Linked DNA regions of Homo sapiens. The protein of the gene in region 1 binds, or shares a complex with, the protein of each later gene. Each region holds a gene or a part of one and is shown on either strand. Other genes may lie near its edges. The genes, in order: LY96 and TLR4. A codon is read from its position in the direction of its gene.

Region 1 (15,862 bases):
GAGAAGAGCAACCCCAAGACAGATAATTGTCAGATTCACCAAGGTTGAGATGAAGGAAAAAATGTTAAGGGCAGCCAGAGAGAAAGGTCAGGTTATCCACAAAGGGAAGCCCATCAGACTAACAGTGGATCTCTTGGCAGAAACTCTACAAGCCAGAAGAGAGTGGTGGCCAATATTCAACATTCTTAAAGACAAGAATTTTCAACCCAGAATTTCATACCCAGCCAAACTAAGCTTCACAAGTGAAGGAGAAATAAAATCCTTTACAGACAAGCAAATGCTGAGAGATTTTGCCACCACCAGGCCTGCCTTACAAGAGCTCCTGAAGGAAGCACTAAACATGGAAAGGAACAACTGGTACCAGCCACTGCAAAAATATGCCAAATTGTAGCGACTATTGATGCTAGGAAGAAACTGCATAAATTAACGAGCAAAATAACAAGCTAACATCATAATGACAGGATCAAATTCACACATAACAATATTAACCTTAAATATAAATGGGCTAAATGCCCCAATTAAAAGACACAGACTGGCAAATTGGATAAAGAGTCAAGACGTATCAGTGTGCTATATTCAGGAGACCCATCTCACATGCAGAGACACACATAGGCTCAAAATAAAGGGATGGAGGAAGATCTACCAAGCAAATGGAAAGCAAAAAAAAATAAAAAAAATAAATAAATAAACAGGGGTTGCAATCCTAGTCTCTGATAAAACAGACTTTAAACCAACAAAGATCAAAAGAAACAAAGAAGACAATTACATAAAGGTAAAGGGATCAATTCAACAAGAAGAGCTAACTATCCTAAATATATATGCACCCAATACAGGAGCACCCAGATTCATAAAGCAAGTCCTTAGAGACCTACAAAGAGACTTAGACTCCCACACAATAATAATGGGATACTTTAACACCCCACTGTCAATATTAGACAGATCAATGAGACAGAAGGTTAACAAGGATATCCAGGACTTGAACACAGTTCTGCACCAAGCAGACCTAATAGACATCTACAGAACTCTCCACCCCAAATCAACAGAATATACATTCTTCTCAGCACCACATTGCACTTATTCCAAAATTGACCACATAGTTGGAAGTAAAGCACTCCTCAGCAAATGTAAAAGAACAGAAATCACAACAAACTGTCTTTCAGACCACAATGCAATCAAATTAGAACTCAGGATTAAGAAACTCACTAAAAACTACACAACTACATGGAAACTGAACAACCTGCTCCTAAGTGACTACTGGGTACATAACGAAATGAAGGCAGAAATAAAGATATTCTTTGAAACCAATGAGAACAAAGACATAACGTACCAGAATCTCTGGGACACATTTAAATCAGTGTGTAGAGGGAAATTTATAGCACTAAATGCCCACAAGAGAAAGCAGAAAAGATCTAAAATCGACACCCTAACATCACAATTAAAAGAACTAGAGAAGCAAGAGCAAACACATTGAAAAGCTAGCAGAAGGAAAGAAATAACTAAGATCAGAGCAGAACTGAACGAGATAGAGACAAAAAAACCCTTCAAAAAATCAATGAATCCAGGAGCTGATTTTTTGAAAAGATCAACAAAATAGATAGATTGCTAGCAAGACTAATGAAGAAAAGAGAGAAGAATCAAATAGACGCAATAAAAAATGATAAAGGGGATATCACCACCGTTCCCACAGAAATACAAACTACTATCAGAGAATACTATAAACACCTCTATGCAAATAAACTAGAAAATTTAGAAGAAATGGATAAATTCCTGGACACATACACCCTCCCAAGACTAAACCAGGAAGAAGTCGAATCCCTGAATAGATCAATAACAAGTTCTGAAATTGAGGCAATAATTAATAGCCTACCAACCAAAAAAAGTCCAGGACCAGACAGATTCACAGCCAAATTCTACCAGAGGTACAAAAAGGAGATGGTACCATTTCTTCTGAAACTATTCCAATCAATAGAAAAGGAGGGAATCCTCCCTAACTCATTTTATGAGGCCAGCATCATCCTGATACCAAAGCCTGGCAGAGACACAACAAAAAAAGAGAATTTTAGACCAATATTCCTAATGAACATCGATGAGAAAATCCTCAATAAAATACTGGCAAACCAAATCCAGCAACACATCAAAAAGCTTATGCGCCAAGATCAAGTTGGCTTCATCCTTGGGATGCAAGGCTGGTTCAGCATACACAAATCAATATACGTAATTCATCACATAAACAAAACCAAAGACAAAAATCACACGATTATGTCACTAGATGCAGAAAAGGCCTTCGACAAAATTCAACAGCCTTTCATGCTAAAAACTCTCAATAAACTAGCTATTGATGGAACGTATCTCAAAATAATAAGAGCTATTTATGACAAACCCACAGCCAATATCATACTGAATGGGCAAAAACTGAAAGCATTCCCTTTGAAAACTGGCACAAGACAGGGATGCCTCTCTCACCACTCCTACTCAACATAGTGTTGGAAGTTCTGGCCAGGACAATAAGGCAAGGGAAAGAAATAAAGGGTATTCAATTAGGAAAAGAGGATGTCAAATTGTCCCTGTTTTCAGATGACATGATTGTATATTTGGAAAACCCCATCATCTCAGCCCCAAATCTCCTTAAGCTGATAAGCAGCTTCAGCAAAGTCTCAGGATATAAAATAATGTGCAAAAATCACAAGCATTCCTATACACCAATAACAGACAAACAGAGAGCCAAATCATGAGTGAACTCCCATTCACAATTGCTACAAAGAGAATAAAATATCTAGGAATCCAACTTACAAGGGTTGTAAAGGACCTCTTCAAGGAGAATTACAAACCACTGCCCAACGAAATAAAAGAGGACACAAACAAATGGAAGAACATTCCATGCTCATGGATGGGAGGAATCAATATTGTGAAAATGGCCATACTGCCCAAGGTAATTTATAGATTCAATGCCATCCCCATCAAGCTACCAATGACTTTCTTCACAGAATTGGAGAAAACTACTTTAAAGTTCATCTGGAACCAAAAAAGAGCCTGCATTGCCAAGACAATCCTAAGCAAAAAGAGCAAAGCTGGAGGCATCATGCTACCTGACTTCAAACTATACTACAAGGCTACAGTAACCAAAACAGCATGGTACTGGTACCAAAACAGAGATATAGACCAATGGAATAGAACAGAGGCCTCAGAAATAACACCACACATCTACAATCATTTGATCTTTGACAAACCTGACAAAAACAAGCAATGGGGAAAGGATTCCCTATTTAATAAATGGTGCTGGGAAAACTGGCTAGCCATATGTAGAAAGCTGAAACTGGATCCTTTCCTTAAATCTTATACAAAAATTAATTCAAGATGGATTAAAGACTTAAATGTTAGACCTAAAACCATAAAAGCCCTATAAGAAAACCTAGGCAATATGATTCAGGACATAGGCATGGGCAAGGACTTTATGACTAAAACACCAAAAGCAATGGCAACAAAAGCCAAGATAGACAAATGGGATCTAATTAAACTAAAGAGCTTCTGCACAACAAAAGAAACTGTCATCAGATTGAACAGGCGACCTACAGAATGGGAGAAAATTTTTACAATCTACCCGTCTGACAAAGGGCTGATATCCAGAATCTACAAAGAACTTAAACAAATTTACAAGAAAAAATCAAACAACCCCATCAAAAAGTGGGCAAAGGATATGAACAGACACTTTTCAAAAGAAGACATTTATGCAGCCAAGAGACACATGAAAAAATGCTCATCATCACTGGTCATCAGAGAAATGCAAATCAAAACCACAATGAGATACCATCTCACACTGGTTAGAAAGGCGATTGTTAAAAAGTCAAGAAACAATAGGTGCTGCAGAGGATGTGGAGAAATAGGAATGCTTTTACACTGTTGGTGGGAGTGTAAACTAGTTCAACCATTGTGGAAGACAGTGTGGCAATTCCTCAAGGATCTAGAACTAGAAATACCATTTGACCCAGCCATCCCACTACTGGGTATATACCCAAAGGGTTATAAATCATGCTACTATGAAGACACATGCACACGTATGTTTATTGCAGCACTATTCACAACAGCAAAGACTTGGAACCAACCCAAATGTCCATCAATGATAGACGGGATTAAGAAAATGTGGCACATATACACCATGGAATACTATGCAGCCATAAAAAACGATGAGTTCATGTCCTTTGTAGGGACATGGATGAAGCTGGAAACCATCATTCTGAGCAAACTATTGTAAGGACAGAAAACCAAACACTGCATATTCTCACTCATAGGTGGGAATTGAACAATGAGAACACTTGGACACAGGGCAGGGAACATCACACACCAGGGCCTGTCATGGGGTGGGGGGCTGGGGGAGGGATAGCATTAGGAGAAATACCTAATGTAAATGACTAATTAATTGGTGCAGCAAACCAACATGGCACATGTATACATATGTAAGAAATCTGCACATTGTGCACATGTACCCTAGAACTTAAAGTATAATTTAAAAAAAAAAGAAAAGAAAAGAATGGAAGGTATGAGCAAGATATGAGCTTTCTTGGCAGGCACAGTGGCTCAAGCCTGTAATCCCAGCACTTTGGGAGGCCGAGGCGGGCAGATCACTTGAGGTTAGGAGTTCCAGACCAGCCTGGCCTACATGGTGAAACCCAGTCTGTACTAAAAATACAAAAGTAGATGGGTGTGGTAGCACATGTTTGTAATCCCCGCTACCACCCGGGAGCCTGAGGCAGGAGAATCACTTGAATGAAGGCAGAGGTTGCGGTGAGCCAAGATCCCACCACTGCACTCCAGCCTGGGCTACACAGTGAGACTCCAGTCTCAAAAAAAGAAAAACCAAAAAAAAAGATAGCTTTCTAAGACAGACAAAACAATTGAAAAACAAAAAAAAAAGGGTTCTATCCAACAGAAGAGGTTAGAACTCCTTCCACCTACCTGAACTGCTAAGTGTTAGGACAGTCTCCCTTAATAGAAATCTAGGGTTTTTTCTTTTTTTCTTTTTTTTTTTTTTTGTGACAGGGTCTCGCCCTGTCGCCCAGGCTGGAGTGCAATGGCGCAGTCTCAGCTCACTGCAACCTCTGCCTCCCAGGTTCAAAAGATTCTCCTGCCCCAGCCTCCCCAGTAGCTGGGATTATAGGTGCATGCCACCACGCCCAACAACTTTTTTTGTATGTTTAATAGAGATGGAGTTTCACCATGTTGGCCAGGCTGGTCTCAAACTCCTCACCTCGTGATCAGCCCACCTCGGCCTCCCAAAGTGCTGGGATTACAGGCGTGAGCCACTGTTCCTGGTCTAGTGGTTGTTCTTAATTTCTTTCTCATATCCTCAAGTCTCATCCATCTTCCTCCCCTGCCCCTTACACAAAGTTTACAGAGTTGGCTTTATGACCAGAGTCCAGGGCCCCATATACGGAAGGGCCCCATGCTTGGGGTTTAATGCCCTGTGATCATAGTCTTGAAATTCTTAATAATTTTATCTTTGAGTGTGTGTTTTGTGTAAGTGAAATCTAATGAGATGATGAGGTATGAACCCACCTTCCCTGGACCGGTTCTTGGTTCCCGCTGCCCACTTCCCTGCTGGCACCATGGGATCCCCTCCCCTCTTCTGTCCAGTGCAACCTGCTACCCTCTGCTCCTGGTGAAATCCTGGCTACAGGGAGGGTCAGGATCCGGTGTGGGTGCCCTGCAGTATCTTGGGTGGGCATGACAGTGGCTGCCCTACCTGGGCTGGCAGCACCACAGCCCTGTTCAGCAGCTGACTAGTTGGGCACACCATCCCCTGCCCCACCCCGAAACAGGTAGTGTGTGGAGGTATTGCATGGAGGTTGCAGTGCGTTGAGAGTCACTGTTGAATAGCAGGCCTGTGGGAAAGAAAGGTACTTGCTTGGACTTCCTGCCTCTCACAGGAGCATGGGGCATCTGGCAGTTTGTGGAAGGAGGACGCTGACAGGCAACTCTCAGGCCCAAGCTTGCACAGGAGCCCCCAGTCGTGGAGGAGCCCCTGGGTGTTTCTGCACTCACCTATGCTGCTTGCTGAGGGGTCATTCCCTCAGGCTGTTCCATGTCTTGGGGACCTTCTCTTTCTCCGTTCAAATTTCCTGCCTCTGGCTTGTGTTAGTTTCCTCTGGCCAGCTCGAGGCACCCTCTGGGGTTGAGCAGGGAAAGACAAATTATGTAATCTCCGTGATTCTACCTTGAAGTTAAATGCTTTAATATTTGCATTTAAAACTGGCATTGTATTATAAAAAGATGAATAGTGAAATTCATACTAACAGTTTAAAATGTTCTCTTTATTACAAATGATATTAAATTGCAATAAAAACATTATGGCAAGTCTAGAGAGAGAAACACACAGAAGAAAGGAAAAAGTTTTATGTTCTAGTAACTTTAACAGGTTTCCCCCATCTTTTGAATAAGCAGCCTCATATTGTCATTTTGTGCTGGGCCTTGAAAATTATGTATTTAATTATGTAATGATGTATTGCATTACTTTTCATGGCAAAAACTGCAATTACTTTTACACCAACCTAATAGTTGATCCTGAAGCTGGGTACTGAGAATTAGGTGCTAGGTGCCAGATATCCAAATATCCAAAGCAAAACCCCGGTCCTCATGGAGATTATAGACTAGTGGAGAAAACAAGATCCTAATGAAGTAATAAAATAAAGAAAAGCAGAAAAATGAAATATGATTCAATTTGTGATAAATACTCTCAAAGAAACAAGCAAGTTAATGAGATAGAGCCTATTATTATTATATTATTATATAATATATACATATATGACTAATATATTAATGCATTAATATTCACAAGGTATGAATATGTTATTATTCACAAGATGCCATTGGAAGGAGGGTCTAGAAGGGAGAAGGAATAATATTAAATGTTATAAGTAACATTTAATGGTAATAATATTTAATAAGTGCTATGTCCTAGGCATTGTTCTTAGCACTTAACATGTATTAACTGGTATAGCCCTTGTAATAATCCTATGAGATACGTGTTATCGCCCATCAGCATTTTACTGAGGCATAGAAAAATTAAGTGACTGGCCTAAAGTTACACACCAAGTAGAGGAGCTGGGATTCAAACCCAAGCCGTTCTGGCCCCAGAGCCATCACTCTTACAAAGATGTTATCTTTATCCTTACTGCATCTTTCTCATTGCATATTGTATTTGGAATGGTTTCTTCTTATCATTTTAGGGGTCTTTTTTTGGTTTTTAAAAATTTTAATTTTATTTTAATTTAATGTATTTATTTTGAGACAAGGTCTCCCTGTCACCCAGGCTGGAGTGAAGTGGCACGAACACAGCTCACTGTAGCCTCTACCTACTGGGATCAAGTGATCCTCCCACCCTAGCCTCTCGAGTAACTGGGATTATAGGCACATGCACCACACCCATCTTTCTTTTATATATTTTGTACAGATAAGGCTTCACCATGTTGCCCAGGCTGGTCTTGAACTTCTGGGCTCAAGGGATCTACCCTCTTTGGCCTCCCAAAGTGTTGTGATTACAGGCATGAGCCACCGCTCACAGCTGGAATGGTTTCTTAAATATCTATATCTCCAATAGACTTTAGCTCTTTGAGAGAAGGGACAGAGTTGTACTACCATTGTCTTCCCAGGCCCTGGTGGGTAGTAGGCTTTCAATAAGTGAGTTGTTGAACTGTTAAATTTTGAATTGGATTGGCCTTGAATGAAAGATCATAAGATTATGAAGACATGATCACTTTACTGAGCTCAAGAAACACCTCAGGTATCAACTCCTTTAGTAAGGATACACCCGGCTAGGTGTGGTGGTTTATGTCTGTAATCCCAGCACTTTGGAAGGCCGAGGCAGGCAGATCACCTGAGGTTAGGAGTTCAATACCAGCCTGGCCAACATAGAGAAACTCTGTCTCTACTAAAAATACAAAAATTCGCCAGGCGTAGTGGTGGGTGTCTGTAATCCCAGCTACTGGGGAGGCTGAGGCAGGAGAATGGCGTGAACCCAGGAGGCGGAGCTTGCAGTGAGCCAAGATTGTGCCACTGCACTCCAGCCTGGGCGACAGAGCGAAACTCCGTCTCAAAAAAAAAAAAAAAAAAAAAGATACACCCTTTATCTGCTTTAAAGAAAGAGCAAAAAGAAAAGAAAAGACAGCTGGGCGCAGTGGCTCATGCCTGTAATCCCAGCACTTTGGAAGGCCAAGGCGGGCAGATCGCCTGAAGTTGGGAGTTCGAGACCAGCCTGGTCAGCATGATGAAACCCTGTCTTTACTAAAAATACAAAAATTAATCGGGTGTGGTGGCAGGCGCCTGTAATCTCAGCTACTCAGGAAGCCGAGGCAGGAGAATCTCTTGAACCCGTGAGGCAGAGGTTGCAGTGAGCTGAGATCACGCCATTGTACTCCGGCCTGGGCAACAGAGTGAGACTCCATCTCAAAACAAAGAAACAAACAAAAACAGAAAGAGGATACATCCAGAAGTAAATAAATAAATGCTTACTTGTGAGACTAGAAGTATACATGCAGACATTAATTATTTACTTCTGAGAACAATATTATAGTTTTTGATTTAACTATATTAAAAATATTTTTGGCCACTGTTTCTTTTGTTTGAGATTCAAAACATACATTTCTATCTTTACCCCACCACATTCACTACTTTGTTCTGACTGGAACAGTAGGATGTGCATTTTTCTGCACTTTTGACTCTGTGCTCCACAGCTTGTGTGGGGCCAGGCCCGTGGCTATGCACTTAAACAGAAGCTAACTTGAGCTTCTCAGTGGTGTAATTGGGAGGAGCTTCAGTATTCTGGCTGCCTCCAAAATATCTCATCTGTCTTTGCAAGATTGTTCTCTATTATACCCAGCTTAATGTGCATCAATATCTCTGAAAACTAGTTTGCAATGCACATATGTAACTTGTTCTGAAGCATATTAGCACTAGCTTGTTCATCGTTTATTCATTATTGAGACCAGCAGGTCTTAATAGTTTGTGTCCCCTAAGGGATAAGGTAGGGGCAGGTGTACAGAGAGGCTCTAGGGGCGGAGAAAGGAAGCCACAGGAGAATAGCAGCCAGGGTATAAAAGATTCATTATTTTTCTACAGTTTTGCTTGGGACTGCGTCTGTCAGTAGTTAAGGTATACTCCATGCTACCAAGAAAAAAATATCACCTAACCGTGACCAATAACGTTTTGTATTTTATATTTTGTTTGCAGAGACTGTGAATACAACAATATCATTCTCCTTCAAGGGAATAAAATTTTCTAAGGTATTGTTCAAGATTTATTTTGTACTGTCTAACCTTTAGCAGTAATAGACATGTTAAGCATTTGAAACAAGCAATTCACAACTTCTTCCTTTTTCTTTCTTTTTTTTTTTTAAATGGGATCTCAGTCTGTTACCCAGGCTGGAGTGCAGTGGCACGATCTCTGCTCACTGCAACCTCCACCCGCCAACCCCCACCCCAAGCAATCCTCCTGCCTTAGCCTCCTGACTAGCTGGGACTACATGTCCATGCCACAATGCCAGCTAATGTTTTGTACTTTTGGAAGAGACGCGGTTTCACCATGTTGCCCAGGTTGGTCTTGAATTCCTGAGCTCAAGCGATCCACTCCGCTTAGCCTCCCAAAGTGCTGGGATTACAAGTATGGGCAGTTGTGCCCAGCTGACAATTTCATGAATAGCAGTTCGAGATTAAGATGTTCAGGGTTTTTTCTTTCACTTTTATTTAGAATTAGCTTTTTTTTTTTTTTTTTAACTGAGTCTTGCTCTGTTGCCCAGGCTGGAGTGAAGTGTGTTCTGGACTCACTGCAACTTCCGCCTCCCAGGTTCAGGTGATTCTGTGCCTCAACCACCCGAGTAGCTGGGATTACAGGCACATGCCACTATGCCCAGCTAATTTTTTTATTTTTAGTAGAGATGGGGTTTCACCATGTTGCCCAGGCTGGTCTCAAACTCCTGGCCTCATGTGATCCACCCACCTTTGTTCCTGGACCAAACTGAGGGTCGGGCTGCCATTTCTCGCAGCCCAATAGCAAGATGCAGATGAACTGGGGAGGAAGAGAGCTTTTATTTCTGTAACTGGTTACAGGGAGAAGGTCTGGAAATTATCGCCAGACCAACTCAAAATTACAAAGTTTTCAGAGCTTATATACATTCTAAGGTATATGTCTATGTGTAAGTGTGCATTCATCTGAAGACACAAGTGATTAACTTCTTTTAATCTATAATTAAGGTCTGAGTCCTGAAGACCTTCATCTGGAGCCTCAGGAACTTTACTTAATCTAAATGGGTCTGGGTGCTGGGGTGATTACCTTTATCTTGTCTCCTGCTAAATCATGGAGGTTTGAGGAGTTCCTTCAGACCCCCAGTAAACTTGGTTGTGGAAGCCTGGGGAGTTTCTTCGGACCCACAATAAAACTCGATTGATCCTAAATGGGTCCTATTAAGAATTTCTTAGTTATTTTGTTATGGTTTAAGAAAGCCTTAAAGGAAGGGCCTGGGCAAAACTCCTGATGGGCTTTTGTTACATCCCATCCTTTGCATAAGGGCGCTGGCTTTAAATATTTAACTTAACCACTCAGTACTGAAACAGTTGTTAGTGAGACCTGGCCTTGGCCTCCCAAACTGCTGGGATTATAGGTGTGAGCCACCACACCCAGCCTTAGTATTAGGTCTTTTGGTATTTTTTCTTTCTGTAGACTATGGAAAAATTGCACAAAACATAGCATTTTTTTCCGCTTCATTTTTTTTTCCCTCTAACATACATGGGCAAAAGTAATTTGAATGCAAGTGCTCATTACTAATCTGTTGAACAGTCTTCAGATGAAAGCACTGGATGACCATTGTGTATAAGCCAGTAAATCTCTATAACTATTCATGTAAATATAATGTGAACATTGTTTAGGAGAATAAAAATCACATAAATTACAGACTTTTTTTGTTCAAGATTTTTTTGGGAACTTAGTCTGGTCATCCATGCCTTTGTAAAAATAATTGCTGCCTCAATGAATAATACCATTGTGATTCTAGATATTTGCGTGACATATCTAGTAATGAGATTTTATGCATTTTACTTATGGTGACCATTTTAAAATAAAATTTAATAATGCATATTCTTTCATTATTTTGTTATAAACTAATATCTAATATTTCAAAACCTCTTAGGTTAGTTTTTAAAAATAACATAATCTTATAATTGGGAAATAAATGGGCTTTATGCTCATTTAATTCAAAGACATGGAAAATTTCGTCTCATTGGAAAACTATAAAATCAATCCAATTTAAATGGCTTTCTGCTAGTAAGAGAAAGTTCTTACAAAGCCTCTGAAATAGTAGCATCTAACATTTTGTATTACTTGTATTTCTTATACTTCATTTTAGGGAAAATACAAATGTGTTGTTGAAGCTATTTCTGGGAGCCCAGAAGAAATGCTCTTTTGCTTGGAGTTTGTCATCCTACACCAACCTAATTCAAATTAGAATAAATTGAGTATTTAAAAAAAAATTTAAAGGTATTGTTCCTGTTTTAAGGGTACCCAGGATTTGTTTTAATCAGATATGGTAGGATAGGAAGACACAGAAATGACTGTCATGAAGAAAGAAGCTTATCCTCACAGATCTCTAGGAAACGGAGGCATGGTGCATCATGCAGAGCCACCTGGGGAAGCACCAGTGTCTGTGAGAATGTGGAGGGAGGGGAAGAATGTGGGCAAGAGTGTTTGTTATGTTTTCCACAGGAAGCAATGGGCAAGGTAGGGTAAGTAATTGATATGGTTTGGCTGTGTCCCCATTCAAATCTCATCTTGAATTGTAGTTCCCATAATCCCCACATGTCATGGGGGACCCAGTGGGAGGTAATTGAATCATGGGGATGGTTACCTCCATGCTGTTCTCATGATAGTGAATGAGTTCTCATGAGATCTGATGGTTTTATAAGGAGCTTTCCCCACCCACCCCTTTTGCTCTGCACTTCACCTTCCTGCCACCATACGAAGAAGGACGCGTTTGCTTCCCCTTCTGCCATGATTGTTTCCTGAGGCCTCCCCAGCCCTGCAGAGCCGTGAGTCAGTTAAACCTCTTTCCTTTATTTTATTTATTGTTTTGAGATGGAGTCTCACTCTGTCACCCAGGCTGGAGTGCAGTGGCACCATCTCGGCTCACTGCAACCTCTGCCTTCCAGGTTCAAGTGATTCTCCTGCGTCAGCCTCCCAAGTAGCTGGGATTACAGGCACCTGCCATCACACCTGGCTAATTTTTGTATTTTTAGTGGAGATGGGGTTTCACCATATTGGTCAGGCTGGTCTTGAACTCCTGACCTCAGGTGATCGGACTCCCAAAGTGCTGGGATTACAGGCATGAGCCACTGCGCCCAACCTAAACCTCTTTCCTTTAGAAATTACCCAGTCTTGGGTATTTCTTCATAGTAGCGTGAGAATGGACTAATACAGCAGTGTTGACCTAAAAGGAAGAAGCTGAGACAGAATTAGTGTAAGTAGAGAGTTTATTTGGGCCAAGCTTGAGGACTGCATCCTGGGAGCATGGCAACTTGAGTTGCCCTGAATATATACTCCATAAATTAGCAGCAGTTACAAGAGGGTTTTTAAAGGGAAAGAAGAGGGAGTTTCTGAGTTGTTTACCAAGAATTTACATTAAAAAGGCTGGGTGCAGTGGCTCACACCTGTAATCCCATCAATTTGGGAGGCTGAGGCGGGCAGATCACCTGAGGTCAGGAGTTTGAGACCAGCCTGGCCAACATGGTGAAATCCTGTCTCTTCTAAAAATACAGAAATTAGCTGGGCCTGGTGGCATGCGCCTGTAATCCCAGCTACTTGGAAGGCTGAGGCAGGAGAATCGCTTGAACCCGGGAGGTGAAGGTTGTAGTGAGCCAAGATTGTGCCACTGCACTCCAGCCTGGCGACAGAAGTGTTTTTGGTGAAGTTTATAGAAACAAAAGGATGGGGTCTTTTCTGCTTGGAGACCCCTCTCTCTATATAGAGAAAGCTGTTTCTCTTTCTCTTCTCTTCTGCCTATTAAACCTCCACTCCTAAACTCCTCGTGTGTGTTTGTGTCCTAAGTTTTCCTGGTGAAAGATGACAAACCCTGGGTTTATACTCCAGACAACGTAGCAGCTTCATATTGGAGGTTCATCTGGGATACCAAAGTACAACATTCATTGAAACGGTGAGCAGAGGAGCAGACTCCAACTCTGTCCTTACATTTCAAGGCTGTCAGCCTCCATTTAAGAACCAAATCAAACCAACTACTGGGCCACCTTCAGCCATTTAAAAATGATTAGCATGGCTGCCAGCCTTATAAGACTTGGAGGACAGGCTTTCTGGAGAGAACATGGAGAATCCCCGAGTACCCATGGGTTGTTGGGCATATTGGCCCTGTTTGAACCAGCTTACTTTCAGAGAGGACTTAGCTGTTGCATGGGGCTGGAAGAGGTTTTGGAGCAACTGAGGATTTCTGGCTGGGGCTACCCCCGTGTTATCCAAAGGCTTCTGGACTGACCCCAGCTTCCGACCACCTGATAGGGTGTCAGTAATAGGATTGCCACCTTTCCTATTGTAATTTCCTCCTTTCCTGTCCATGACCACCATATCTCTCATCCTCTCTGTATGAAATCCGGAGTATATGCCGCCTGCTGGTCTTTTCCACTTGGAGACTATTTCTCTTTCTTTTCTCTTCTGCCTATTAAAACTCTGCTCCAAAATAACAAAAAACAAAAAGACACAAGGATGTGTTTTTTGCTAAAGAAAATGTAATTTTGCTGGGTGTGGTGGCTCACGCCTGTAATCCCAGCACTTTGGGAATCCAAAGCGGGCGCATCACAAGGTTAGGAGTTCGAGACCAGCCTGGCCAGTATGGTGAAACCCTGTCTCTACTGAAAATACAAAAATTAGCCGGGTGTGGTGGCGGGCACCTGTAGTCCCAGCTACTCAGGAGGCTGAGGCTGAGGCAAGAGAATTGCTTGAACCCAGGAGGCGGAGGTTGCGGTGAGCCGAGATCGTGCCACTACTGCACTCCAGCCTGGGCGACAGAGTGAGACTCTGTCTCAAAAAAAAAAAAAAAGTAATTTTTTTTTAGTTAAGTGACTATTTAAGAGTTGCTTTAGAGTAAAGGAAAAATTATACAGATAAAACTAAATGGATAAAGAGAAAAACTAAGCCCAGGCAACAAAGTTACCTCTGAGACCTGTGGTTACCAAGAAGACAGTCAATGTGGAGGAAGGGCAAAATGAAGCAACCATTAAAACCAGAGGGTAGCCAGGCATGGTGGCTTCTGCCTGTAATCGCACCACTTTGGGAGGCCGAGGTGGGTGGGTCACCTGAGGTCAGGAGTTCCAGACTAGCCTGGCCAAGACGGTGAAACCCTCATCTCTACTAAAAATACAAAAATTATCTGGTAGTGGTGGCGCACACCTGTAATCCCAGCTACTTTGGATGCTGAGGAGTGAGAATCTCTTGCACCCAGGAGGCAGAGGTTGCAGTGAGCCGAAATTGTGCCACTGCACTCCAGTGTGGGTGGCAGAGCAAGATCCTGTCTCAAAAAACAAAAACAAAACAAAACAAAAAAACAACCAACCAACCAAACATAAAACCCGAAAAGCCACAGGGGATTGTGTAAATGAATTGTTCCATTTTGTAGATTGGTATCATCATCTCCCTGAGAAACCTTTACTACAATTAAGGGAGGAGACCACCCCTCATATTGTCTTATGCCCAATTTCTGCCTCCAAAGGAAGAAGAAGTAAAAACTAAAAGGCAGAAATGAAATCCACAGGCAGACAGCCCGGCGTGCTGCGCCCTGGGCCTGGTAAAGATCAACCCCTGACCGATTCCAGACATTGTATGGAAAAGCATTGTGAAAATCCCTGTCCTGTTCTGTTCTGATTACCTGTGCTTGCAGCCCCCTGTTACGTACCCCCTGCTTGCTCAATCGATCACGACCCTCTTACGCGGACCCCCTTAGAGTTGTAAGCCCTTAAAAGGGACAGGAATTGCTCAGTCGGAGAGCTCGGTTTTTGGAGACGTGAGTCTGCCCGGTGCTTCCAGCTGAATAAAGCCCTTTCCTTCCACAACTTGGTGTCTGAGGGGTTGTTGTCTGCAGCTCATTCTGCTACACAATAAATTGTAAAAATAACTACTTTAAGGATAGAATCCTTAATTTTAAATGCTACAGAATGAAAGAGCTTGATTGGGTTGATGCAGGACCCACAGCTCACTATTAAACAATTGCTGGTGAATGTGTGTGATCCAAATACACAGGAGGTGATTCCTGAGGGAACAACCAGCCTAGTGTTTATCCTGAGAAGGAGATTGCCCAACTCTCCCTATAAAATGCCAAGTGGAACACCCCAGATGAAGCAGTTGATATGCTTCATATGCAAGCCATGTGGGACTGGCTTTATGATGACCCAAATATTCTCCAACAAAAATTTCTATTGCCCACATCATGGTAAATTTTGGGGTTTAGGGGGCCCTTTTTACATGGGCACCCTGGGTGACATTACTCCGGCAGAATCATACGACTATTTGAGCAGCCTTATCAAGTTTGCTGTCTCTTGTGGGTTTTACAGATGCTTAATAAAATATCAGGCATAATTAACAAAAAAAAAGATGGGTAAGGAGAAAGGGATTAAAAGAGCTCACCCCAGAACAGTGATATAATTTTTTGGATGGTTATTAAGAAAAGAAAGAAATAAAATGAAAATTGAGGGAGTTAAAACAAAGGCCTTTAAAACACTATTTGCCCCTAGATTGGAAAATATAAGAAAAATCCAAAGACAATGGTTATAATGAGAATGCTACGTTGCCTGGGGCAATACTGAGGCAAATTAAGATAAAGATTGAC
Region 2 (15,862 bases), on another chromosome or scaffold:
TGTAAAAGCCAGGTAGAGGAGGTGGTTCAGAGGAAGGGCTCTGGATTGCTTAGTGTGCATAAGGCATGCTCCAGAGCAAATCTTTTGCTATTTTTTAGAACTAACTAGCCCTGGTAAGTGCAGTCTCTTCCCAGATGCCAGAACATCAAGAACACAGAAAAGAAGACAATTGGGTTAATACATGTTTAGCATGAGAAATGAGGAAGTAAGGGAAATAAAGTCAAAGAGATTTCCACCTTGGATGACTATGTCAAAGTGAAACACCATTAACTTTCCAGGGAACTAAACTTTATTGAGCACCTACTCTGTGTCAGGCACTGCTCTAAAATCTTTACATGAATAATCTCAATACTCAGAGCAAAGCTTTGACATGGAGGTTGTTTTTATCTTAACTCTACTGGTGTGTTGATGGAGTCTACAAGAGTTTGTGCCCAGTCCACCACAAAATGGTCCCTCACAGCTTGGTTTTTGACACGTTGGATTGGAAGTGCTTGGAGGATATTACAGTAGAACTATCTAGGACTTAGCATGCATAATATTCCTGTTTTAAATCAGGTTCTTATTTAACAGAAACTTACATTGCACTTGCTACTTTCCAGACACTGTCCTAAAAGCTTTACAAATGCCAGTTCATTTAATCCCAATACAATACTTTGAGATACATATTATCATCTTCATTCTATCCACATTTTCAATCCTCATCATAGCTCTCATTTATGGAATGTAATGATGATGCTCTAGACTAGACGTTTTACGTAAGTTAGCTTAATTCAGTAATTCAAAACACATGCGATTATCTTCGTTTTAAAGACCAGAAAACTAAAGGTTGGTAGGTTTGTATAATTTGACTACCATTGCGTATCTTTATTTTAATACATTTTATAAATGCAAGCTTCTGCTATGATTAAAAGTGATTACCACATTTTACAGACCAGAAAGTAATAATAAGTGTTGGTGAAGATGTGAAAAAATGAGAACTCCTGTACACCATTTGTGGGAATGTAAAATGGTACAGATGCTGTGGAGAATCATATGGTGGGTGCTCAAAAAATTAAAAATAGATTTACCACATGATCCAGCAATCTCACTTCTGAGTACGTATCCAAAAGAATTGAAAACAGAGACTTTAAGAGATATTTGTACAACCATGTTTATGGCAGCATTATTCACAATAGCTAACGTGTGGCAACAATGCAAGTGTCCATGAACAGACAAATGGATAAGCAAAATGTGGTCTATACATACAATGGAATATTGTTCAGCTTTAAAAAGGAAGGAGGCTTTGATCTATACTACACAGAAAAGAACCTTGAGGACATTATGCAAAGTGAAATAAGCCAGTGACAAAAAGATACATACTGTATGATTCCACTTCTAAGAGCTGCCTAGAGTAGTCAAGATTATAGAGACAAAAGTAGTGCATAGATTCAAGGGCCTAGGGAAAGGGGAAATGGGGAGTTATTTATTAATGAATAGTGGTGATGATTGTACAAAAATATGAACATAATTAATGCCACTAAATTGTACACATACAAATGGTCAAGATAATAAATTTTATGTTATGTCATGTTATGTTATGTGATTTTACCATAATACAGAAAATGAAAAAAGAAAAGAAAGAAAGTAAAGCTTAGCGGTTTACATGACTTGACCAATGCCTCAAAGCCATGAGTCACCCAGCTGAGATCTGAACTTCAGTATATTCCATTCTGAAATCCCAGACTTTTCCCAATCTTCTTGTACTTTTCAAACTGTGTTTCAGTTGAGGTTTATTTTCAGTTTTGTATGTGAGTTTCTTCACAAGAAGGGGCGGGCCAAATTGTGTCCTGCAAAAACCTACATATCGAAGTCCTAACCCCTCTACCTCAGACTATGACTGTATATGGAGAGAGAGCCTTGAAAGAGGTATGTAAGGTAGAATGAGGTCATTATGGTGGGCCCTAATCCAACATAACTGGTGTCCTTATAAGAAGGGGAGATTAGAATTCAGACACACTTGCTGACACCTTGAGTTCAGACTGGAAGCCTCTAGAATTGTGAGAAAATGAATGTCTGTTGTTTAAGCCACCCAGTCTGTGGTATTTCCTTATGGCAGCCCCAGCAAACTAATACAAATAGTGTTTCCACAGCTGAAACAAAATTGGAAAATCACCGTCATCCTAGAGAGTTACAAGGGCTATTTTAATAGAACCTGATTGTTTTCCTAAATTCACCAAGCCCAGGCAGAGGTCAGATGACTAATTGGGATAAAAGCCAACTAGCTTCCTCTTGCTGTTTCTTTAGCCACTGGTCTGCAGGCGTTTTCTTCTTCTAACTTCCTCTCCTGTGACAAAAGAGATAACTATTAGAGAAACAAAAGTCCAGAATGCTAAGGTTGCCGCTTTCACTTCCTCTCACCCTTTAGCCCAGAACTGCTTTGAATACACCAATTGCTGTGGGGCGGCTCGAGGAAGAGAAGACACCAGTGCCTCAGAAACTGCTCGGTCAGACGGTGATAGCGAGCCACGCATTCACAGGGCCACTGCTGCTCACAGAAGCAGTGAGGATGATGCCAGGATGATGTCTGCCTCGCGCCTGGCTGGGACTCTGATCCCAGCCATGGCCTTCCTCTCCTGCGTGAGACCAGAAAGCTGGGAGCCCTGCGTGGAGGTATGTGGCTGGAGTCAGCTCCTCTGAACTTTCCCTCACTTCTGCCCAGAACTTCTCACTGTGTGCCCTGGTTTGTTTATTTTTGCAAAAAAAAAAAAGAGTTAAATTACCTTAAAGACTCAAGAAGCCACAGAGATCAAATAATTCATTGTTACAGGGCACTAGAGGCAGCCATTGGGGGTTTGTTCCATTTGGAAATTTTGAGTGCTAACAGGGGCATGAGATAACATAGATCTGCTTAAGGTCCCTGCTCTGCTACCTTGTGGCTCTGTGAAGAAATTATCAAACCTGTCTGAGACTAGTTTTCGCATCTGTAAGAGAATTATAATACCTTCTTCACTAGAGAGTAAGCAGACTGCTTCAGTGTCATTTCTTCCCACTGGTGGTCTTTACACTCAGCTTCAAGCAGTCACCCTGCTCCTTTCAATCTCAGGAAAAAGATGGCTTTTGTGTGTGTGTCTCTAGAGAAAGAACTTTCTAAGTGGGTGTCAGACTTCTGTATGCAGTAATATAGTTTAGTCCAGAGGATGAAAAAAATAAGAGAATGAAAAAGGAAAAGAGAGAGAGAGAGAAGAAAAAAGCAAGAGGGAAATATGTATAATGTCAGCTAATGCAACAGTTTCTTTCTTAGTGAAATACCAATCAGCTGGTTGGTAATCTTATTCATGATGGATCTCTTTTGTTTTTCCCCTGCGCAGACTTCACAGTTGCTTTAGAAACCCATAGTAGAGCCGAACAGCTAAGAAAATGATTTACAGTGAGGCAGGGTCAGAAACTCAAGAGAGAAAAAGCCAGCTGCAGTCCTGAAGTTGAGGATATAGGAGAAAATCAAGTAATATTTAGCAAAGACTAATTCATTATCTTGAAGCCATCCCTTCCCTCAATTCCCTGCCCATAGTCCTCCTCCTTGTCCTCTTCTCTGTATCCCTCTGCTGTTAGGTTAATGGAGATAGATTTTCTAATTAGGCTCACTGCGAGATAAAACCACAGCCAAACTTGACTTCTTTTCCCCATGTACCTTTTCCTGTCAGTCCCTGAAGCCTGTCCATCCCTGCCCATCCCCTTAGTTCCACTGTAAGGCAGGCCCTCATTTCCCCTGGCATTGACTCTTACACACTAACTGCTTTCCTGATTCCAGTCTTCTTCCTTTAATTCATTCTGCACGTTCTTGTTTGTTATGTACTTGCATTTGTTGTTATTATTTTTCCTTAGGCTTCAATCTAACAAATTACTCTCCTTAAAAACTTTTAATAACTCTCCATTGCCATTAGAACAGCTTTCTACCACAGGGCCTTTGCACTGGCTATTTCTTCTACCTAGAATGCTAGATCAGTGCTATCCATTGGCAATATTATGTGAGCCACATATGTACTTTTAAAGTTTTTAGTAGCCTCATTAAAAAAAGAAACAAGTGAATTTAATTTCGATAATAGTTTTATTTAACTTAGCGTATTTAAAATAATGTTTAAAATTTTAATATATATTTACCTATTATTGATATTTTTACATTCCTTGTTTGGTACTAAGTCTGGAATTTAGTATATGTTTTACATTTACCACACTTCTCAATTTACACTATTCACATTTCTTGTGTTTGATAACTGTGTATGGCTAGTGACTACCGTATTGGTCAGTGCAGCCCAAGTCCTTTTCATGCTTTAATCACTCCATTCAGATCTCTGATTAAATGTCCCCTCCTCAGGGCAGTCTTCCTTGATTGCCCCATGTAGAGCTCTCCAGCCTCACTTATTTGCCTCAAATCCCCTTATACTGCTTAATATTTTTTTTTCTAGAGCACAACATTTTATATTTTTGTTTGTTTATTTTCTCTCTCTCCCTTTGTAATGGAATCGGTAAGGAGGCAGGATCATTGCTGGTTTTATTTACCACTATATTTCCAGTGGCCAGCACACAGTAGCCGCTAGATGTGTAAGTGATAAATGATTGAAATAATTGCTGCAGGACAAAGTCTGAGGCCCTCCTGATCTGGCTTGCCCTCTTACTTAGATTTCACCACTCCCACCACTCACCAGCTAATCTGAGTTTGTTTTCCACTCTTTACGTGCTCACGTTGTCCTCTCCTTAGGACATGTTTTTCTTCCCCTTTCCACATATCTAAACCTTACTCATCTTCCAAGACCCACTTTAAAATCTTCCTTTTCTGGGAAGCCTTTCCTGAATCCAGACTTGATCTCTGCTTTCTCTGAACCACAGGGCATATTTTCTAAGCCTATTTTATGGCCCCTTGAGATAGTGTTAGCTTTGCTCCTATCTAAACTCTTACTCTAGACTGTGAGTCCATTGAAGTCTGGAGCTGCATCATATTTTTCTTTGTAATGCCCACAGCACTTGGCAGGAAATGCCTACAATTTGGACTTAAGTAAACCTTCATTTAATCAGTTATTCAATCAGTTAGTGATTCAGCAAATATTTATTGAGCACCAACCATTTGCCAGACACCATTCTGAGTGCTGGAGACAAAGCAGTGGGCAAACCCATCAAACTTGCAATGGAATACAGGAGATGAACAATACGATGAGAACAATCAGATAGACAACATAATGTTAGATGGTTGTGCTTCCCGTGAAAGGGAATAAAAGAGGGCAAAGAAAGAGTGCCTGGCACTGTTTCTATTAGACAATATTGTCTTTGAGGCTCCATGGCTTGCAACATTTAAGCAGACATACGAATGAAGATCTGCATGTTTGAACTCTGACTTTGCGCATATTACTTCATTTCTTTGAATTTCCATTTTCCTCATCTTTAAATGCTTATTTGAAGATTAAGTGAAAGTATATAACAAACAAGAACTATGCAGGCATATGGTAAGGGATTAATGATAGATGATAATAATTAATGTTGACATCTATTGATCACTTATACTGTAGCGGGCTTTTAAATAAACTCTTTAAACACCTTATCTCATTTAATCCTTCAAACATTCTATTGGTTTCAAACAACAGAAAACTACAATTAGCTGGCTTCTGCAAGGAATTTTGTTGGAGGAAATGAGAGCATTCAGAAATTAGATGGGAGCGTTAGAGAATTAGGCTTACAAAGAATGTGGGAAAGTAGGCTAGAAAGCAGTGTAAAAACAAAGACAGCATAAAGCACTTGACCTTATTTACTAGGTTCCACCATGGGAATCCATGCACTCTAAAGATTTCCCCCTATTTCTACATCACTTTGCTCAAGGGTCAATGAGCCAAGAAAAAGAATGCAGTTGTCAAAATCTGGGCCATGACTAAGGAAGGTCTGGACATCTTGACTGCCAGACAGTCTCCCCAATGATATGGAGTATTTAAAATGATACTGGATATTTTATTTATTTTTTGTATTTTCAACTTTTAAGTTCAGAGGCACATGTGCAGAGCATGCAGGTTTATTACATAAGTAAATGTGTGCCATGGTGATTTGCTGCATAGATCATGAAAATATGGAACGCATCATGGATTTGTGTGTCATCCTTGTGCAGGGGCCATGCTCATCTTCTCTGTATCCTTCCAATTTTAGTGTATGTGCTACTGCAGCAAGCACGATATTGGATATTTTATTACCTACATTTTACATATGATAAAATGAGGCTCACTGAGGTTTTTCTTTTGTTCGTTTTATTTTGTTTTGTTTTTAAAGACTTGGCCCTAAACCACACAGAAGAGCTGGCATGAAACCCAGAGCTTTCAGACTCCGGAGCCTCAGCCCTTCACCCCGATTCCATTGCTTCTTGCTAAATGCTGCCGTTTTATCACGGAGGTTAGAATGCTGAGCACGTAGTAGGTGCTCTTTACTTTCTAATCTAGAGTAAGACAATTTATAAGCATGAATTGAGTGAATGGATGGATGGATATATGGATGGAAGGATGGACAGATGGATGAAAGGTTGACTGAATTTTGTGCTTGCACAAAAAGAGGCCCCTCTCCACCATCTCTGGTCTAGGAGAGGGGAGTTGGGAGACCATGCAGTAAAGATACTTCATGTCATGTGTAATCATTGCAGGTGGTTCCTAATATTACTTATCAATGCATGGAGCTGAATTTCTACAAAATCCCCGACAACCTCCCCTTCTCAACCAAGAACCTGGACCTGAGCTTTAATCCCCTGAGGCATTTAGGCAGCTATAGCTTCTTCAGTTTCCCAGAACTGCAGGTGCTGGATTTATCCAGGTAATGAATCCACTTTTACATACTGCACAAGGTGAGGTGTTCATTGTCCTGTCATTTCATTATTGGACTGGAAAGCTTGGTTTGTGGAGTCTCATCTTCATTCACTTATTCATTCATACAACAGATGTCTTATTAACTATATAACCTTGAGCAAGCTACCTCTATTCTCCAGGTCTCAGTTTTCTAATCTGTGAAGTAGGCAGTTGGCTGAGACAGCTTCTAAGGGCAATTCTAATTTTAGGTTTTCTTTTAAGACAGGAGAGAAAATTAGCTTAAATTCTTTCATAAGCAGCTATTTATTGACTACTTGCTATATGTTGTACACTCTGCAAGAAGACAGGCATATATTGATATATAACACACAGCCCCTGTTGTTAAGGAGGCATATCTTCTTGAAAGAGTTAATACCTTAAAGTCCTGGGTATGGTCCTGGGTACATAGTATATAGTCAACACATTTTAATTATGATTTTTTGGATCTGGAAACTGATATAAAGATAGCGACATATAACAGTAGGTGATAAATTATGTTTAAACTAAAGGTAACTAATTGTATTTTTCAGAAGAGGGGCCTTCTCTGTGGTGGGTAGTCAAGAAAGATTTCATGAACTGCATAAGATTCAAACAATGTCTAGAATATTAAAACTAGTGTACAGGATAGGGAATTAGGAAAAGACAAGTAACCCAAGGAGAAAGATGTCAAGATTAAAGGAAAACATCTGCTGTGGGCAGGGAATAATGGCTAAGATTTTCTTTTCTGATGCAGGGAAGTATATCGTTTGTTGTGGCAGGTGAAATGTCATCTTGATATTTTAGGGGAACCAAATTCTAAAAGGGTTTTCATCATCGGGGCCTTATTTGCAAATCGAACTAGATAATGGATCATGTTCTCTGCAATGGTTTGTAAAACATTTCAAAACATTTTACATATTTTTTATTATAGAAATTATTGATAAAGACTAAGGTCACAGTATAAAAATCCTTTTTAGAGCAGACATTTCTGTAGAAGAGTGAGCATACGACCTATTATACTCTAATTTGGATATAGATAGGATGTAACAAAGGAGTAATGGAACAATTCAAAGGCAGTGGTATAGTGCATAGAGTCCTGTTGGGGTCAGAAGACCTGAGCCAAGTTTACCCCCAACCTTTATAACCATGTAACCTTAGGCATATTACTTCATCTCCCTTAATCTTAGTTTTCATATCTGATCAATGGAAATGATGAAACTTATTCTGCTGGATTAAATGTGATAATAAATATTAATATGCTGTATATATTTAAATTTTTATAAAATATATTTTATAAGCATAAAGTATTCTTACAGAATTTCATTAGGTTTTTAAAATAATTTCAACTTTTATTTTTGATTCAGGGATTTACATGGTTATATTGCGTAATGCTGAGGTGTAGGGTACAATCGATACCATCACTCAGGTAGTGAGCATAGTACCCAATAGTTAGTTTTTCAACCCTTGCTGCTTTCTCTCTATCCCCTCTCTAGTAATCCCCAGGGTCTATTTTTGTCATCTTTATGTCCATGTGTACTCCATGTTTGGATCCTACTTATAAAGTGAGAACTCATGGTATTTGGCTTTCTGTTCCTTTGTTAATTTGCTTAGGATAATGGCTACTAGCTGCATCTATGCCATTATGTTCTAAATTTCAGTTTCCTGCATGAAAATTTTGTCAAGTACTCTATTAAGGTAGACCACCTCTCCCTTTTTTTTTTTTTCAAACAAGAAGTAGTTTTTCACCAAACAATGTCTCTTATGTAATTCATCTTCAATCCACTGGATACCCAATAAACTTGCCCCAGAAACCTTAAATCTGTGCTTACAGAGAGGCCAGCTTCCCTTCTTGTTAACCCATAGGAGATTCTGAATTAGGGCAAGCACAAAAGATAGCACAATAGACATCCTTTGCCTTTTCGTACAGTGTTCACATACAGTAACTCAACTAGTCTTGTAAGAATGCTTTGTGATAGACCAGGCAGCCTTCTTTCCCCTATAGAAATATATATATATTTCTTTTTATAGGTGAGGAAACTGAAGCTTGAATAATTTAAATGACTTATATACATTATCATTGCTTGTTAGCCACAGACCAGAGATTTAAGTTCACATCTCCAGAATCCAACTTAAATGTTTTCTTTGTCTTAATACTCTACTTCTCTAAAGTGATTATCACCAATGTAATGATATAGAGACACAGCAAGACCCTTTCCTTCTCACCTAATGTATAGAGCAATGCAGAGATAGAATGATGGGCTATAACAATCATATAATTGAAAGAAAGAACTTCAAAAATAATCAAGTTCAGCTGTTTGATTTATAAATGTGATAACTAAAACCTAGAGAGGAAAAGAGGTACTCAAGATCACACAGTAGGAGAGGACTGCAGAAACACCAAACCCAAGCTCTTTTGTCCACTCTTCCAGCGTTCTTTCTACTATACTGCCTATCCTTTATCTAGTTACCAATAAATAACAAAAGCTTGGACCACAATGCTTTTATTGTCTAGGAAACTCCTGAAGAAGCTAAATAAAATGGGTGGGGAATATTGTAAATGTAATTCAGGCTGGATTAAGAAAGAACTTATTTGTACATTGTAACTGACAAGCACCTGCAATGCTGAAAGGAATTTTTCATTGGCTTGCTGTTTGCTGGCTGCATCAAAGCCCTGTCTCTAGGACATGTCTCTGAACATTGTGTGTAGCATGGCTTTCATTTCTTTTAGGATAAAATTCAAAACCCTTTATCTGGTTGGTAAACCTCTGCCTAATTGGGAACCTTCTTTCTCCACAACTCCATATTGTACACTCCAATTTCATCTCTGTTCTCCAACCATGGAAGCTATTTGTCATGATTCCTCCTTGTGTCATTTTTTTTCTGTCAACCTTGGGGCTTTTGTGTTTGCTGTTCACTTCACCTCCTTTTATTGTTAACTTCTACTCATCTTTCAATTTTCAACTTAAGTGTTCTCAGAGAAACCTACTTTGATTTTCTTGGTCCACAACGGTTCTCTGGATGTGAACTCTTATAGCACATAATTTTCACTTTTTTCCACAAAACTCGCTCCTATCACCTGTTACAAGCATTTACCTCTGATAACAAGAACTTTCAAATATCTAGCTGTCATGTAAGCACTTTTCATAAACATTAAGAGTATCTGTGACACTTATGTGTAATTTTTCGTATCTCTGAAATTGATATTTACCAGTCATTTATCTTGGCTACCAACTAACAACTATCCATATTATCTGTACCAATCAGATGTATAATCACAATTTTGTGTGACAGAAAATGGCTAAACTTGATCCAAGGCTATTACATGCTTTATCAACTGCACAATCTTTATATATGTCAATTATTGATCTTTAACTGATTTCCTTCTTATGGATTTTCTCCTCTGCTTATCATGTATGCCTAACATGACAAAAAAGAGCCTATCATTGCAGCCAGTATGATAATACTCAGTCTGTGGGGCTTCTTATTTGCTTATTCCATCATCATCTGTCCTGCTTGATGTCTTTGCCTATGCACAATCATATGACCCATCACATCTGTATGAAGAGCTGGATGACTAGGATTAATATTCTATTTTAGGTTCTTATTCAGCAGAAATATTAGATAATCAATGTCTTTTTATTCCTGTAGGTGTGAAATCCAGACAATTGAAGATGGGGCATATCAGAGCCTAAGCCACCTCTCTACCTTAATATTGACAGGAAACCCCATCCAGAGTTTAGCCCTGGGAGCCTTTTCTGGACTATCAAGTTTACAGAAGCTGGTGGCTGTGGAGACAAATCTAGCATCTCTAGAGAACTTCCCCATTGGACATCTCAAAACTTTGAAAGAACTTAATGTGGCTCACAATCTTATCCAATCTTTCAAATTACCTGAGTATTTTTCTAATCTGACCAATCTAGAGCACTTGGACCTTTCCAGCAACAAGATTCAAAGTATTTATTGCACAGACTTGCGGGTTCTACATCAAATGCCCCTACTCAATCTCTCTTTAGACCTGTCCCTGAACCCTATGAACTTTATCCAACCAGGTGCATTTAAAGAAATTAGGCTTCATAAGCTGACTTTAAGAAATAATTTTGATAGTTTAAATGTAATGAAAACTTGTATTCAAGGTCTGGCTGGTTTAGAAGTCCATCGTTTGGTTCTGGGAGAATTTAGAAATGAAGGAAACTTGGAAAAGTTTGACAAATCTGCTCTAGAGGGCCTGTGCAATTTGACCATTGAAGAATTCCGATTAGCATACTTAGACTACTACCTCGATGATATTATTGACTTATTTAATTGTTTGACAAATGTTTCTTCATTTTCCCTGGTGAGTGTGACTATTGAAAGGGTAAAAGACTTTTCTTATAATTTCGGATGGCAACATTTAGAATTAGTTAACTGTAAATTTGGACAGTTTCCCACATTGAAACTCAAATCTCTCAAAAGGCTTACTTTCACTTCCAACAAAGGTGGGAATGCTTTTTCAGAAGTTGATCTACCAAGCCTTGAGTTTCTAGATCTCAGTAGAAATGGCTTGAGTTTCAAAGGTTGCTGTTCTCAAAGTGATTTTGGGACAACCAGCCTAAAGTATTTAGATCTGAGCTTCAATGGTGTTATTACCATGAGTTCAAACTTCTTGGGCTTAGAACAACTAGAACATCTGGATTTCCAGCATTCCAATTTGAAACAAATGAGTGAGTTTTCAGTATTCCTATCACTCAGAAACCTCATTTACCTTGACATTTCTCATACTCACACCAGAGTTGCTTTCAATGGCATCTTCAATGGCTTGTCCAGTCTCGAAGTCTTGAAAATGGCTGGCAATTCTTTCCAGGAAAACTTCCTTCCAGATATCTTCACAGAGCTGAGAAACTTGACCTTCCTGGACCTCTCTCAGTGTCAACTGGAGCAGTTGTCTCCAACAGCATTTAACTCACTCTCCAGTCTTCAGGTACTAAATATGAGCCACAACAACTTCTTTTCATTGGATACGTTTCCTTATAAGTGTCTGAACTCCCTCCAGGTTCTTGATTACAGTCTCAATCACATAATGACTTCCAAAAAACAGGAACTACAGCATTTTCCAAGTAGTCTAGCTTTCTTAAATCTTACTCAGAATGACTTTGCTTGTACTTGTGAACACCAGAGTTTCCTGCAATGGATCAAGGACCAGAGGCAGCTCTTGGTGGAAGTTGAACGAATGGAATGTGCAACACCTTCAGATAAGCAGGGCATGCCTGTGCTGAGTTTGAATATCACCTGTCAGATGAATAAGACCATCATTGGTGTGTCGGTCCTCAGTGTGCTTGTAGTATCTGTTGTAGCAGTTCTGGTCTATAAGTTCTATTTTCACCTGATGCTTCTTGCTGGCTGCATAAAGTATGGTAGAGGTGAAAACATCTATGATGCCTTTGTTATCTACTCAAGCCAGGATGAGGACTGGGTAAGGAATGAGCTAGTAAAGAATTTAGAAGAAGGGGTGCCTCCATTTCAGCTCTGCCTTCACTACAGAGACTTTATTCCCGGTGTGGCCATTGCTGCCAACATCATCCATGAAGGTTTCCATAAAAGCCGAAAGGTGATTGTTGTGGTGTCCCAGCACTTCATCCAGAGCCGCTGGTGTATCTTTGAATATGAGATTGCTCAGACCTGGCAGTTTCTGAGCAGTCGTGCTGGTATCATCTTCATTGTCCTGCAGAAGGTGGAGAAGACCCTGCTCAGGCAGCAGGTGGAGCTGTACCGCCTTCTCAGCAGGAACACTTACCTGGAGTGGGAGGACAGTGTCCTGGGGCGGCACATCTTCTGGAGACGACTCAGAAAAGCCCTGCTGGATGGTAAATCATGGAATCCAGAAGGAACAGTGGGTACAGGATGCAATTGGCAGGAAGCAACATCTATCTGAAGAGGAAAAATAAAAACCTCCTGAGGCATTTCTTGCCCAGCTGGGTCCAACACTTGTTCAGTTAATAAGTATTAAATGCTGCCACATGTCAGGCCTTATGCTAAGGGTGAGTAATTCCATGGTGCACTAGATATGCAGGGCTGCTAATCTCAAGGAGCTTCCAGTGCAGAGGGAATAAATGCTAGACTAAAATACAGAGTCTTCCAGGTGGGCATTTCAACCAACTCAGTCAAGGAACCCATGACAAAGAAAGTCATTTCAACTCTTACCTCATCAAGTTGAATAAAGACAGAGAAAACAGAAAGAGACATTGTTCTTTTCCTGAGTCTTTTGAATGGAAATTGTATTATGTTATAGCCATCATAAAACCATTTTGGTAGTTTTGACTGAACTGGGTGTTCACTTTTTCCTTTTTGATTGAATACAATTTAAATTCTACTTGATGACTGCAGTCGTCAAGGGGCTCCTGATGCAAGATGCCCCTTCCATTTTAAGTCTGTCTCCTTACAGAGGTTAAAGTCTAGTGGCTAATTCCTAAGGAAACCTGATTAACACATGCTCACAACCATCCTGGTCATTCTCGAGCATGTTCTATTTTTTAACTAATCACCCCTGATATATTTTTATTTTTATATATCCAGTTTTCATTTTTTTACGTCTTGCCTATAAGCTAATATCATAAATAAGGTTGTTTAAGACGTGCTTCAAATATCCATATTAACCACTATTTTTCAAGGAAGTATGGAAAAGTACACTCTGTCACTTTGTCACTCGATGTCATTCCAAAGTTATTGCCTACTAAGTAATGACTGTCATGAAAGCAGCATTGAAATAATTTGTTTAAAGGGGGCACTCTTTTAAACGGGAAGAAAATTTCCGCTTCCTGGTCTTATCATGGACAATTTGGGCTAGAGGCAGGAAGGAAGTGGGATGACCTCAGGAGGTCACCTTTTCTTGATTCCAGAAACATATGGGCTGATAAACCCGGGGTGACCTCATGAAATGAGTTGCAGCAGAAGTTTATTTTTTTCAGAACAAGTGATGTTTGATGGACCTCTGAATCTCTTTAGGGAGACACAGATGGCTGGGATCCCTCCCCTGTACCCTTCTCACTGCCAGGAGAACTACGTGTGAAGGTATTCAAGGCAGGGAGTATACATTGCTGTTTCCTGTTGGGCAATGCTCCTTGACCACATTTTGGGAAGAGTGGATGTTATCATTGAGAAAACAATGTGTCTGGAATTAATGGGGTTCTTATAAAGAAGGTTCCCAGAAAAGAATGTTCATCCAGCCTCCTCAGAAACAGAACATTCAAGAAAAGGACAATCAGGATGTCATCAGGGAAATGAAAATAAAAACCACAATGAGATATCACCTTATACCAGGTAGAATGGCTACTATAAAAAAATGAAGTGTCATCAAGGATATAGAGAAATTGGAACCCTTCTTCACTGCTGGAGGGAATGGAAAATGGTGTAGCCGTTATGAAAAACAGTACGGAGGTTTCTCAAAAATTAAAAATAGAACTGCTATATGATCCAGCAATCTCACTTCTGTATATATACCCAAAATAATTGAAATCAGAATTTCAAGAAAATATTTACACTCCCATGTTCATTGTGGCACTCTTCACAATCACTGTTTCCAAAGTTATGGAAACAACCCAAATTTCCATTGAAAAATAAATGGACAAAGAAAATGTGCATATACGTACAATGGGATATTATTCAGCCTAAAAAAAGGGGGAATCCTGTTATTTATGACAACATGAATAAACCCGGAGGCCATTATGCTATGTAAAATGAGCAAGTAACAGAAAGACAAATACTGCCTGATTTCATTTATATGAGGTTCTAAAATAGTCAAACTCATAGAAGCAGAGAATAGAACAGTGGTTCCTAGGGAAAAGGAGGAAGGGAGAAATGAGGAAATAGGGAGTTGTCTAATTGGTATAAAATTATAGTATGCAAGATGAATTAGCTCTAAAGATCAGCTGTATAGCAGAGTTCGTATAATGAACAATACTGTATTATGCACTTAACATTTTGTTAAGAGGGTACCTCTCATGTTAAGTGTTCTTACCATATACATATACACAAGGAAGCTTTTGGAGGTGATGGATATATTTATTACCTTGATTGTGGTGATGGTTTGACAGGTATGTGACTATGTCTAAACTCATCAAATTGTATACATTAAATATATGCAGTTTTATAATATCAATTATGTCTGAATGAAGCTATAAAAAAGAAAAGACAACAAAATTCAGTTGTCAAAACTGGAAATATGACCACAGTCAGAAGTGTTTGTTACTGAGTGTTTCAGAGTGTGTTTGGTTTGAGCAGGTCTAGGGTGATTGAACATCCCTGGGTGTGTTTCCATGTCTCATGTACTAGTGAAAGTAGATGTGTGCATTTGTGCACATATCCCTATGTATCCCTATCAGGGCTGTGTGTATTTGAAAGTGTGTGTGTCCGCATGATCATATCTGTATAGAAGAGAGTGTGATTATATTTCTTGAAGAATACATCCATTTGAAATGGATGTCTATGGCTGTTTGAGATGAGTTCTCTACTCTTGTGCTTGTACAGTAGTCTCCCCTTATCCCTTATGCTTGGTGGATACGTTCTTAGACCCCAAGTGGATCTCTGAGACCGCAGATGGTACCAAACCTCATATATGCAATATTTTTTCCTATACATAAATACCTAAGATAAAGTTCATCTTCTGAATTAGGCACAGTAAGAGATTAACAATAACTAACAATAAAATTGAATAGTTATAATAATATATTGTAATAAAAGTTATGTGAATGTGATCTCTTTCTTTCTCTCTCTCAAAATATCTTACTGTACTGTACTCACCTATTTTCAGACCATAACTGACCATGAAACCTGGGAAAGTGAAACTGTGGATAAGTGAGGAACTAACATACATACATGATTGTTTATCTACAGATGTATGCCTCAGTTTCTTAGTATGCTTGAAAATGTATGATTTTGTGTATATCCGTGCTACATGTAAGTGTGGTTCTATTCATATTTGAATATGAATTCTGCATAAGTGTGTTTATTCAAGCAAATGTACAAGGCTCTGAGAAGGAAGATCAACATACAACTTGGAATATTTC

The links.
Region 2: the proteins of LY96 (region 1) and TLR4 are in contact, whole or in part, in a crystal structure (PDB 4G8A), measured with the Homo sapiens proteins. Residues at the interface, in NP_056179.4 of Homo sapiens: Met40, Tyr42, Ile66, Pro67, Arg68, Arg96, Ser98, Asp99, Asp100, Asp101, Tyr102, Ser103, Phe104, Arg106, Leu108, Lys109, Gly110, Glu111, Thr112 (codon at 9,222), Thr115 (codon at 9,231), Thr116 (codon at 9,234), Ile117 (codon at 9,237); in NP_612564.1 of Homo sapiens: Gln39 (codon at 6,668), Met41 (codon at 6,674), Glu42 (codon at 6,677), Asp60 (codon at 6,731), Ser62 (codon at 6,737), Phe63 (codon at 6,740), Asp84 (codon at 6,803), Ser86 (codon at 6,809), Arg87 (codon at 6,812), Thr110 (codon at 10,540), Gly111 (codon at 10,543), Val132 (codon at 10,606), Val134 (codon at 10,612), Glu135 (codon at 10,615), Asn156 (codon at 10,678), His159 (codon at 10,687), Ser183 (codon at 10,759), Ser184 (codon at 10,762), Asp209 (codon at 10,837), Leu212 (codon at 10,846), Arg234 (codon at 10,912), Val259 (codon at 10,987), Glu262 (codon at 10,996), Phe263 (codon at 10,999), Arg264 (codon at 11,002), Asn265 (codon at 11,005), Glu266 (codon at 11,008), Arg289 (codon at 11,077), Ala291 (codon at 11,083), Tyr292 (codon at 11,086).

What each region holds. Positions count from the first base shown.
Region 1 is NC_000008.11:74,017,570-74,033,431, forward strand, and holds the end of LY96 (lymphocyte antigen 96 isoform 1 precursor), read left to right. Parts: intron 1-9,219; coding exon 9,220-9,272; intron 9,273-9,397; coding exon of another isoform or gene 9,398-9,592; exon of another isoform or gene 9,593-11,116; intron 11,117-11,386; coding exon 11,387-11,485; 3' UTR 11,486-11,510; downstream 11,511-15,862. UniProt on the Homo sapiens protein: Binds bacterial lipopolysaccharide (LPS). Cooperates with TLR4 in the innate immune response to bacterial lipopolysaccharide (LPS), and with TLR2 in the response to cell wall components from Gram-positive and Gram-negative bacteria.
Region 2 is NC_000009.12:117,701,917-117,717,778, forward strand, and holds the start of TLR4 (toll-like receptor 4 isoform A precursor), read left to right. Parts: upstream 1-2,486; 5' UTR 2,487-2,556; coding exon 2,557-2,649; intron 2,650-6,282; exon of another isoform or gene 6,283-6,402; intron 6,403-6,646; coding exon 6,647-6,813; intron 6,814-10,472; coding exon 10,473-12,732; 3' UTR 12,733-15,862.